Regions from separate parts of the Homo sapiens genome. Here region 1 is linked to region 2. Evidence: fine-mapped expression QTL. A gene starts in region 2. The other region holds a variant in brackets. All regions are shown on one strand. Distances are from middle to middle.

Region 1 (5,389 bases), 240 kb after region 2:
GGTTAATACATACCATCTTATCTGGCTTCCAGGCAGCATTGTTAGCCAGTGACCATAGGTTGGATTCTCATTTGTGCGGCAAGAAAAGAGTTTATTAATCCTTCCATCTGTTCCTTTCTCCTCTATGGGACTTCCTTATCACTACACCTTCACCTTCAGTTATTTATTCTGTTTTCTTTACAGCCTGTGGATCTTGCACATACTTATATCATTGGCTTCATCCTTGCAAATGGCAATTGTTTGCTATATTAAAGTACTTTCCAGGACTAGTGTAACGGTGTGGCTTTTTGCAGGATGGGGTGGGAAGATCATAAATAGATGCTCCCCAACTCTGAGGATTTTTGACCATATTTGGTTGTAACAAAATAACAAGAGTAGATAAAGTCCCCAGACATATTTTGTGGACTTTGTCTTTTCTCATCCACTGGATGTAGACTAACCTATTAGATTTGGTAATACAGGTATTTTTTTAAAAAAAAATTAGATCTTTCAGAGACTACTAGATAAAATGAAAACATGAGCTAAGTTAAATTAATGCTTTAATAACACTTTTAATTGAGAAAATGTGACTTTTAAAAATCAGTCCAGCTCATGAATTAAAGATCCTCATTAAACTATAGACCATGGAGGACTTGTAACAGCTCTACATCCAAGTTCAAGTGATGTCCTCCATCTAGAGCAAATGATGACCTCTGGATTTAATGCATACGTTATTAGCAGTTTGATCCCTTAGATTCAGTCCATGAATTTTAATCCTCTTTACAAGATGTTCAAAATGATTGGAAAAGTGGAGCTGAAGGTAAACAGGAGCAGCTGTTCACCAGAAAACCTCTCTACCTGACCCCTGCTGGGTTAACACAATGGATTCTGAGAGAACATCGTGACTCATTCCCCTCCTGGTATTTATCACAGACTCATACATTTTGCTCTTTCTTATATACTGCTTTAATCCTGTCCTGATCATGGAACATCATTATCCCCACTTGGAAACTGACTCAGAGGTCAGTGCGATGCAGCGTGGCCGTCCTATTCAGCCTTGTTTGCTTCCTCCCACTCCCTATAACTCTGGGGAAGGTTGAATGTCCTGGGAATTTGACAGAAGTGTGAGGCCTGGGCTCTAGTGATATCAGAGTTTCATATTAAAAAGAAAGGAACTGGAATATAACCTCATTGTTGGAGCGAGGAGAGATAAAGAGGAGATAAAAGATACACAAAAGAAAAGGAAGTGGCAGGTGCTGGCAGAAGGCTGAAATGGTGAGTTTCCACTGCAGAGAGAGTGTGAGGAAATATACAAATTGCTAATAGGAAACGGGATTCTCTCACCACTCCATAACACACTGGGCTGAAATGCTCAAGTGGGAAGAATGACAGCCAAGGCCAACCTGAGCTCCAGTCCTGCCCTGCTGTGCCTAGATTTCACTCATTTCCAGCCCTGGGTGCTCTTGTCTCACATATGTGAAAGTGGAGAAAACACAGGAACACTTTGTTTTCTCTGAACTGTCTGGGGAAGAAAATGCTGTACAGTAAATCAGAGAACCAAACCCTGTGTAAACTGTGAAGAAGGCTGTACTAAATCTAGAAATGGAAGGTACCCGAGGTGCTGCACTGAAACCACTGTTTCCTTACGGATTTTGACTCTTAAGTGCTTATTGTATATGAGTGAAAGTCCAAGCAAAAATACTTATTCTACTCTGAGTATGCTGTGGGCAGCAATAATTGATGTATGACAAGAACATGTCATGGTAATGTAAACCCAAGTTTGCTTAATGGTAGCATGTCTTCAGAGATGAAGCCATTGAGGTTGTCTAGCCAGATACCTGGAAGAGTCTCCTTGCTTATAATTATGAGGAGGTATGGAGTTAGGAATTTGTGTATTTGAATATTCTGCTTCAAGTTTTTTATTTAGTTGTTTCCCTACACTGGCTCAAGTGGCAGCAACATAATAGATGATGCTGAGTAAAACTCCTGGGCATATTTCTTTCTAGAAAAGACTTAAAATTGAAAGGAATAAGTGCATTTATTCACTTGCACATTAGTTCAGTGGATTCTCTCTGGGGTCCCATGGCAAGACCTGCTTTAAGTTGCAACCATCTTACAACATGGTACCTTTGCTCCATATTAATGACAACTAACACTTATTGAGTGTTAATCCTTACACATATAGTTTCCCATTTTTTAAATGACCAAACCCCATGATACAGGTACTTTAATTTCATGAGTTATTTTCATAAATCATTTCATAATTTCATAAAATCATTTCATACTTTCATAA[T/C]TTATGAAATTTCAAAAAAATTTCATAAAATCATTTCATAAATTACTTTCATTTCATAAATGAGAAAACTGAAGGAAGAGGTTCTGTAATTAGTCCAAGGTCATATACCTGGTAAGTAATAGAGATGGATATTGAAATTCAGTAGTCTGGCTCCAGAGCCTATGTGGTTTAACCACTACCCAAACTGTATCAGGAGCCTGAAAAAAAATAGGATTTGCACATGTCTTGGAGTGGAGAATGAAGGACAATAAGGTACAGTCAAGCATGCGGTGACCTTGCCTCTTCTGATGAGTGTCAGCTGTGCTTTTCCTACTGCCCTTCCTGATTAGCCTTCATTTGGGCACCATTCGCCTTCTCTTCTCTGTCCTCATGTTGCCCACTGCCTTTGTCTCATTCTAGATAGCAATACCCACAGCTGTCTTTTCTTCTCACTCTATTTCCTCCTCCTGGTTGGTATCAATTCCAGGATTAGTAATCAAAAACTAATATATTTCCAAATACATATCTCTACCTTAACTACCAAACCCATTTCTAGCTGACTTTTGTCTATCAGCACCTGACTGTTCCACAGGCTCCTGAAACTCAACATGTCTAAAAATGGCTCTACATTTTTGAGTTACATGTTGCTATGGTATAAATGTTTATATCTCCCTAAAATTCATTTGTTGAAATCTTTACCTCTCAGGTAGTGGTATTAGGAGGTGGGGACTCATGGGGTTGAAGCCCTCATAAATGGGATTGGTACTCTTATAAAAGAGGTCCAAGAGAGGCTCCTTGCCCCTATGCCATGTGAGATTAGAATGAGAAGACCACTGTCTATGAGGGAACAGGGCTTCATCAGACACCAGCTTTACCAGCACCTTGATCTTAGACTCCCCAGACTCTGGAACTGTAAGAAATGCATTTCTGTTGTTATGTCTATGGTATTTTGTTATAGCAGCTTAAATGGACCAAGACACACCTGTAGGCTTTAAATGTTTATATTTGAAAATAAACGAGAGGAAAATAAATAAATAAATAAATAAATAAATAAATAAATAAATAAAAGACTCCACAGCCTAGTGGATAGGCTCTGTTCCCGGACTTGCTTCTCTTCCTGTATTCTGAGTCTTAGTTAATGACATCATTTCTGACTTGTAATTCACAATCAGCAATTGCTACTTTGCACTCACCCAAACCCTGCCCACTTGAGATTAGGGATCATTTTTCTAATCCAGCTGTTTCTTCTACCTCTGCAGCCTTTACTTTATCTTAGGTGTGTGTCACCTGCCTTGTTTGCCTGCCCTGCCATTAGTTTTTCTCTCTTCTGTTTATTTCTTCCTCTTTATTTACAAGATTATAATTCTCCAAACTTTGACCATCTTAATGCGGTATCTAGAAATATAGATCAGCTTTCTATCATTCATAATATAAAATCCAAACTCAAGATGGCTGGCAAGCTCTTTCAAACAGAGCTCTTGTCTATCCATACCAATATAATATTTTAAAAAATAATAGTAAAATGGTTGTGGCCAACTTGCTTTACCTGCCTTCCATTTCTCACACTGAAGCAGTCTGAGAGCCAAATTTGCAGAGTCAAGATGAGAACAGTAGCTTTGAAAGTGCAAATTGAGGCTGAGAAGGAAAGATACAGCTCTTGTTTGGGACATCTTGCTTCTTACCCTCTCCGTGGTCCCTCGGTCTATCTAATTCCTTACCTCTCTACCAACCTACTCCTCCATCTACTCTCCTCTTGTATTCAGCCTCAAGGGGGTAGTATAGCCACTGATGCTAGAGGAGAGGCTTACTGGAAGAAAGAATCATCAAGACCTAAATTTAGGGTAGATTATTAAAAACAAAACAAATATAACCAAACCAAACCCAACCAAATTAAAGCAGCAGGGCACAAATGGTACATGCCTGCCTATAATCCCAGCTACTCAGGAGGCTGAGGTGGGAGAATCACTTGAGTCCAAGAGTTTGAGACCAGGCTGGGCAACATAGTGAGACCCCATCTCTACAAAAAGTAAAGATTAAACCTTTCTCACTGCCAAGATACACAGCCTGCTAGTATCTCTGATATATTTGTTATGAGTTGAAATATGTTTCTCAGAATGTGACTGTATTTGGAGATAGAGTCTTGAAAGAGGTGATTACAATAAAATAAGGTAATTAAGGTGGGCTGTAACCTAAAATCACTGGTATGTTGTAAGAAGAGGAAATCAGGATATAGACATGTAGAGATGGAAGATCACATGAAGACACAGGGAAGAGACAGCCATCTACAAGCCTCAGAAAAAAAGAAGCCTCAGAATAAGCCAACCATGCCAACACCTTGATCTTTGACTTCTAGAACAGTGAGAAAATAAGCTTCTGTTGTTTAAACCACCCAGTCTGTGGTACTTTGTTATGGTAGCCCTAGCAAACTAACACAATGCTACTATAAGAAATAATAATAGGCTGGGCGCAGTGCTCATGCCTGTAATCCCAATACTTGGGGAGGGTGAGGTGGGAGAATTGTTTGAACCCAGGGGTTTAAGACCAGCCTGGGCAATGTAGTGAGACCTCACCTCTACAGAAAAAAAAAAAAGAAAGAAAATTAAAAACTAAAACTTAGCTGGCTGTGGTGGTGCACACCTATGGTCCTGACTACTCAGGAGGCTGAGGAGAAAGGACGATGTGAGCCCAGGAGTTTGAGGCTGCAGTGAGCCGTGATCGTGCCACTGCACTCCAGCCTGGGCCACAGAGCAAGACCCTGTCTCAAAAAAAAAAAAAAAAAAAAAAGAGAGAAATAATAATAGCTAGTATGGTTTTTGAGTGTTTAGTGTGTGCCATGTTTTGTTTGATATGGTCTATGTTTTTAAACTTATTTAGTACTCACAACAACTGTAAGACAGTATTACTTTTATTTCTTGTATGTGGATGGGGAAGCTGCAGTAGAGAGGTTTAATGTTGTGTTAAATAGCTAGAAAGAACGCAAAAGTAGAAACTAGGTAATCAGAGAAGTTATGTGTAGTCTTGCCCTGAAAATATTAAATATCAACTGTTTCCACAAATCAATAAAGGAAACAAAGACAACTCAATACAAAAATAGGCAAAATACTTGAAGTTTCACAAAAGGTGTATCTACATATCTAC
Region 2 (5,389 bases):
TAGTATAATGAAACATGTATCTACTATATGAAACTCTGAATCCACATCTTGATTTAGATTTTAACTACCCAAATCAAGAAAAATACTAAATTCAGAAAAATCCAGATTGTATTTACATTCCAGAAAAATGCTCAAGAATCAAGGTATTAAGCAACTTGATATAATCCTATAACTATGCTTGTTTAGTATCATTACATTATAGTCTAATAATTGGAGCTTTGAATATTCCAAAACAGAGAAAAATAATTAAATTCTAAATCTCCAACATGAAGATATTGCTTACAAAAAGGTACAAATATTAAAATCAGAGGAAGAAAAATATTTTTTTAAAGTTCATGAATATTTAAATTTCTAAGCTGAAAATAGATTTCAATATTAAAATTACTTCTGCACAAAATAAAATATAATCATTACCTGCTGGAAGCATCTTCCAAGGTTTTAATTCTAAATTTTATGGAAAGTAAGACTTTTCCAACCTGATTTTAAAATATGTATTTTTAAATGAGGAAGATAATTGCTTTTATTAGATTAGCCAAAGATATATAAAGCTATAATGACAGTATTGCATAAATTTATTTACATGGCAATATATAAGACATGGGGAGGGTGGAGAGTATATAAAACATTTTTATGCTATTTTATTCCGTTCTATTATACTTTTAGATTATATAATATTAAATCTGGGTAAAACAATCCCTAGAGCACAATCTGGTTTAAAATCAATTTGGTCAATGATTTTTGTAACTGATAGTTCTATAGTGCATTATAATACATTTAGAGCCCTCTGGGATTCTTTTGAATATGCTGTACAGAAATGTATATTACACAATTTTCAATTTAGATAGGGCAAAAAGTTCTATTATTAAATTTTATATATATCACTCAATATTAGAGGTGGTGATCTGCTATATAATATATACATCATTGGTAGTGTAAAATCTCTTTCTAAACGTAGTCAAAAAGGCCAAAGACCATTAACGTGTAACTCATCCCAATTCAACACTGCCTTCTGAAAGGCAGTGTTACATAAACCTCAATAGAGTAGTACAATTTTTAACCCATTTTCCTCTGGACAACCATCTCATCTATGTTTAAAAGCTGACTGTATTTTATATTTATGCTGACAACATATTTTCTTAACAGGTTAATTTATGCCCAAAGGGAGTCATTTATAATTAATAAGAATGGTTATTTGTTTAATTAACTAATGGCTTAAATAACGAACATAGCCATTTTCAAAACACCATCAATTGCTGCCCATCAGAGTATCACTTTGCTTTTTTTACAATACATGAAATTCTTAAAATTGTTTTACTTTTTACTTCTCTACCTTTTGGGTTTCTTGCTTTCAACAGAAATGAAGATCTTTTCTTGCTAAATTCTTTCTCACTGTTAGGTTGCAAGTTGGGCAACTTACCCTTAGTGAGGACAAGATGTTTTCTCATCTCCCCAACTACATCAACATCACAACAATAATAATTGGTGATAGAGTAAGAGATCCATAATCTGCAGATCTGTTTCTTGACCACCAAGGGGCAGAAATGCATTTCCACCCCCTTATTTCTCACACAGTAAAAGAGAATTTAAAAATTACCTAATCAAACTCAGTGGTAGAGGTGGTGATCCGCTAAAGAATCTCATGCACCCACAGTTCCCTTTTAAGACCTATTAATGCAAGTACTAGTATAGAATATATATATATTTAAAGCTCCAGTTTCAGATAGCAAGGTTTTTCCCTTTAGAAAATCTGTCTCTCTCTGTCTGTCTCCCTTTCTCCCTTCTTCCCTCCCTTCTCTGTCCCTCCCTTCTCTCTCTCTCTCTCTCCCCCTCTCTCTTTCTCAGTCTCTTTCCCCTTTCCCATTTCTCTGTATTCGAGTTGGAAAAGTGTTTTTTCTTGCCTTTCGCAGTCAATAAACGTTTACATTACCCAGAAAGCGCTTTACGCTACTGGCTTTTTGTGAAAACACAAGAATGTTTTAATTTGGGGGTTAAAAGTCTTTTTTTCTTTTTCGCAAACTTGAACCTACCAATCCAGCCTTCTTTCGCGCCTGCTGGAGCTCCTGGATCAAGTTCTGCAGCTCCTTTCCTTCCAGGTAACCACTTCCTGCAAAGACAAAGAGGCACCCAGGTGTCAGATATCTCATTCCAAGTGTCTTTCCCGTTCACTTTCCAAGACAGTTATCTTTCTGGCGACCCGAGAGGCTCTCTCTTGCCTGGACGTTGATTAACCAGCAAAGTGTACAGACGGTGAAGCGCTCCCCTCCTGGGGTATCAAACTTTAGATCCACTGAGGACAAAGGAGGATGGTTGGGGTGCTAAGCGCAGCCACAGAAACTTTGGGGGGGCAGCATTCCCCAATCCCTGCTCTCTCTCTCCTACCATTACCGTTCCTGGAAAGACAAAAGTTTAAGGTTTTGGGATTACGGTGGAAACAATATAAACTTTCAGGTTGACAGTTTGGCGGCCAGTCGGGGAGATAAGAAGATAAGATTAGGCAGAAGGGGGAAGAAGTAAAGAATAGAAAGGAGGGATAATGGGATCAGGAGGCTCAGAAAAGGGCAAAGAATGGGAAGGGGCATGGAAACGGGTCTTGAAACAGTTAAAAAGAGAAGATAATCACCGTCAGCGTCGAAATGGAGCCAGATCTCGAAAAACTGTGAGGCTGTGATGAGGGATGACTGCAGGTGGGATTCTGCCATTGTACAGCGGGGTGTGTGTCTGGGTGTGTGAATATGCGTGTGTCTGTGTCCGCGCGAGGGGGAGTGAGCAAAAGCTCAGCGTGTGCGCGAGTCAGGGCTGCGGAGGGAGACCTGGGCGCGGGCGCTGCCGGGCGCTGTCCTCGGTGCTGCTCAGCTCAGCGTTCCTCCAGAGTTCTCTCCCTACACCCCGCACCCAGTTCTCAGTATTTATCCCGACGGCCCCAAGCCGGGCCACGCCTCCTCCAGCCTCCCATTCCTCACTCCCCGCCTCTTGCTCTCACCAGCCTTCTTCCCCTCCCTTCCAGTTTTCTGCTCTGTTCCCAGGAAAGCTAGCTGGAGCGAGAGTTTGGGCTTGTTGGAAGCAGCAGGTGGTGGGAGATCCTTTGCTCAGAGATTGGATGCTGAAAACAGAGGCTCATTTCCCCCTACATCCTCCTAGTCCAGGAAGAATCTTATTCCTGAATATTATAGTAAAACTCTTGTTATCTAGAGAGGTTTAAATGTTCAGATAGAAGGGGAAAGCTGATGACGGGTAAAATCACATAAAAGATTATTATATTCTTGTGTGATTTCTCCAAGACTTTTCAGTATTTGTTTGAAAAAAAAAAAGCATGTGAAACCTTGGCACGCATTAGAATAATTTGATTAATGTATACAATGAGTTGATTGCTATCAATAATCACTCTATTTTGTGCCATCATGTCAATGTTTCTTAAGATGGTTTCTATGAACTAACCTTGCCAACACGAAAAAAGCTAGATTATGGATTTCTTTTCAGCATGAAGTAGAATTATAATTGGAAAGTAATACAGTTAAATTATAAAACCTTAAAATCTTAGATAAGGAAGTCATCTTACAGATACTAGAGTTTACTGCCTTTCAGTTTAGAAGGAGTGAGTAAACTAAAACAAAGAGAAAGGAAGGATCTGACCAGGTTCATAAGTAGGTACGTTAGTGCTACCACCACAGCCCCATTCAGTCGCCTTAACACACACGTCTCCTTCTTTCTGTTTCAAGCAACCCCTACTGGAGAATTTTTCAGAAATTGGAAGTCACCATCAGAGTTGGAAAAGCTATCTAACTAAATGTATGCTATGTTATGTATATATATATATATATATATATATATGTAATATATATGTATGTATACACACATATGTATATATGTTCTGTACTATATATACATATGTATATGTGTTATGTATTTTAATATAATTAATTATATACTTGGATTATTTCTTATTTACATAAGTACTTCTGGAGTATTTGGCTTTGAGTCTTTTGGACCTTGAAGTCCACTAAAAATGTATCCCAAAAGTCTAATTACAATTGTACTAAAACAAAATGAAGGAACAAGAGAAAATCTACACATAGCCAATATAAGCTTAAAGTGAATTAAAATGAATTTACCGGCCGGGCGCGGTGGCTCACGCCTGTAATCCCAGCACTTTGGAAGGCCGAGGCAGGCAGATCACAAGGTCACGAGATCGAGACCATCCTGGCCAACATGGTGAAATCCCGTCTCTACTAAAAATACAAAAATTAGCTGGGCATGGGGGTGGGCACCTGTAATCTGAACTACTTGGGAGGCTGAGGCAGGAGAATGGCTTGAACCTGGGAGGCGGAGGTTGCAGTGAGCCAAGATCACGCCACTGCACTCCAGCCTGGTGACAGAGCAAGACTCTGTCTCCAAAAAAAAAAAGAGAGAGAGAGAATTTACCAAGCTCTATATTCTTAACCTTGTGTAATTGAGTTTGGGACCCCTCAAATTTATGTTTTTGAGATTAGGGCTCTATCCATTATTATATTTGTGGAGTTTTTTTGTAAGTATCCTTTTCAGAGACCCATCAATTTGAAGCTAGCCTATTTCAATAATCTTCTTAATGGAATCCTCACTTCCATAGTACTTTCCAGTTCATACATTATTTTTACTTATGATACCTCATCTGATTCTCACTGATGGTCCTATTGGTCCTATGTTAGTGGCCAGGGTCGCTGTGTGAAAAATATAGTGTGTGAACTTGGAGACCAGCGCTAGAGAATAAACTTTGAAGAGAGAGTGAGAATGCAGTGACTAAGGAATGACTTGAAGAATCACTCTGACCCTTGCTAGTCTTGACAGAGCTAACAATGTCTAGACTTTGGATACAGTTCTGAGACAAAGAAAAATGCTAGAAAAAGTATGTAGGAATATGGACTGAACAAACTGATGAAAAAAGAGCAACATTTCTACTATTTTAAAAAGTAATTAAAATTAATTTTCTTCCTAAAAAGAGACCACACACTGTGGTAAAAATTCCTAAACATTTTCACCATAATCTGTTTGTTGGTTTTTTAGAATTTTATCTTAACTTCCAAAAGTATTACAAGACAATTTGTAAAAGTTAAAAATATTTATATGAAAGTAATCTTTTTTCTTATTCACTTTCCTGAAGCTATGGCAACTTCCAAATTTCCATTTAGAAATGTATAGGTGCTGTGACTTGAGAGAGAGTGAGAAATAAATGGGAGACTTCCTTGGAACTATGTCCAAACAGCAAGTTTGGACATAGTTTTTTTTGTGTGTTCTTTTTATGTTTATATGAAGTGGCTTTTGAGGGAACTAATGTAGATTATGGAGCTCTAAAGCAGTTTAGTGCTGCCCCTACCATGAGGTAATCAACACTAAAAGAGCCATGCTTATGGAAATA

Alleles and levels. Positions count from the first base shown, and alleles are read on the strand shown. Sizes are in standard deviations (SD) of each study's normalised expression.
For the expression in stomach of the gene that starts at base 2,881 in region 2, C is the high allele of the variant in region 1 and T is the other (moderate effect, 0.40 SD a copy in GTEx).

What was found. PIP is the estimated chance that this variant, and not a neighbour inherited with it, causes the effect. A credible set is the group of variants that fine-mapping cannot tell apart.
Region 1: its variant is the best candidate, but not a certain one, in a credible set for the expression of CALB1 in stomach (GTEx, PIP 0.60).

The regions. Positions count from the first base shown.
Region 1 is chr8:90,323,565-90,328,953 of GRCh38, forward strand. All of the region lies in intron 2 of LINC00534 (long intergenic non-protein coding RNA 534), which reads left to right. The region is part of intron 6 of LOC124901975 (a long non-coding RNA gene); the gene reads right to left. Among named protein-coding and RNA genes, the nearest start is that of LINC00534, 100 kb to the left of the region's middle. The variant T/C (reference allele first, on the strand shown) is at 2,273.
Region 2 is chr8:90,079,999-90,085,387 of GRCh38, forward strand. CALB1 (calbindin 1) reads right to left here and starts at 2,881. Exons shown (of 11, transcript NM_004929.4): 1 at 2,621-2,881; 2 at 2,028-2,104. The coding sequence starts at 2,699.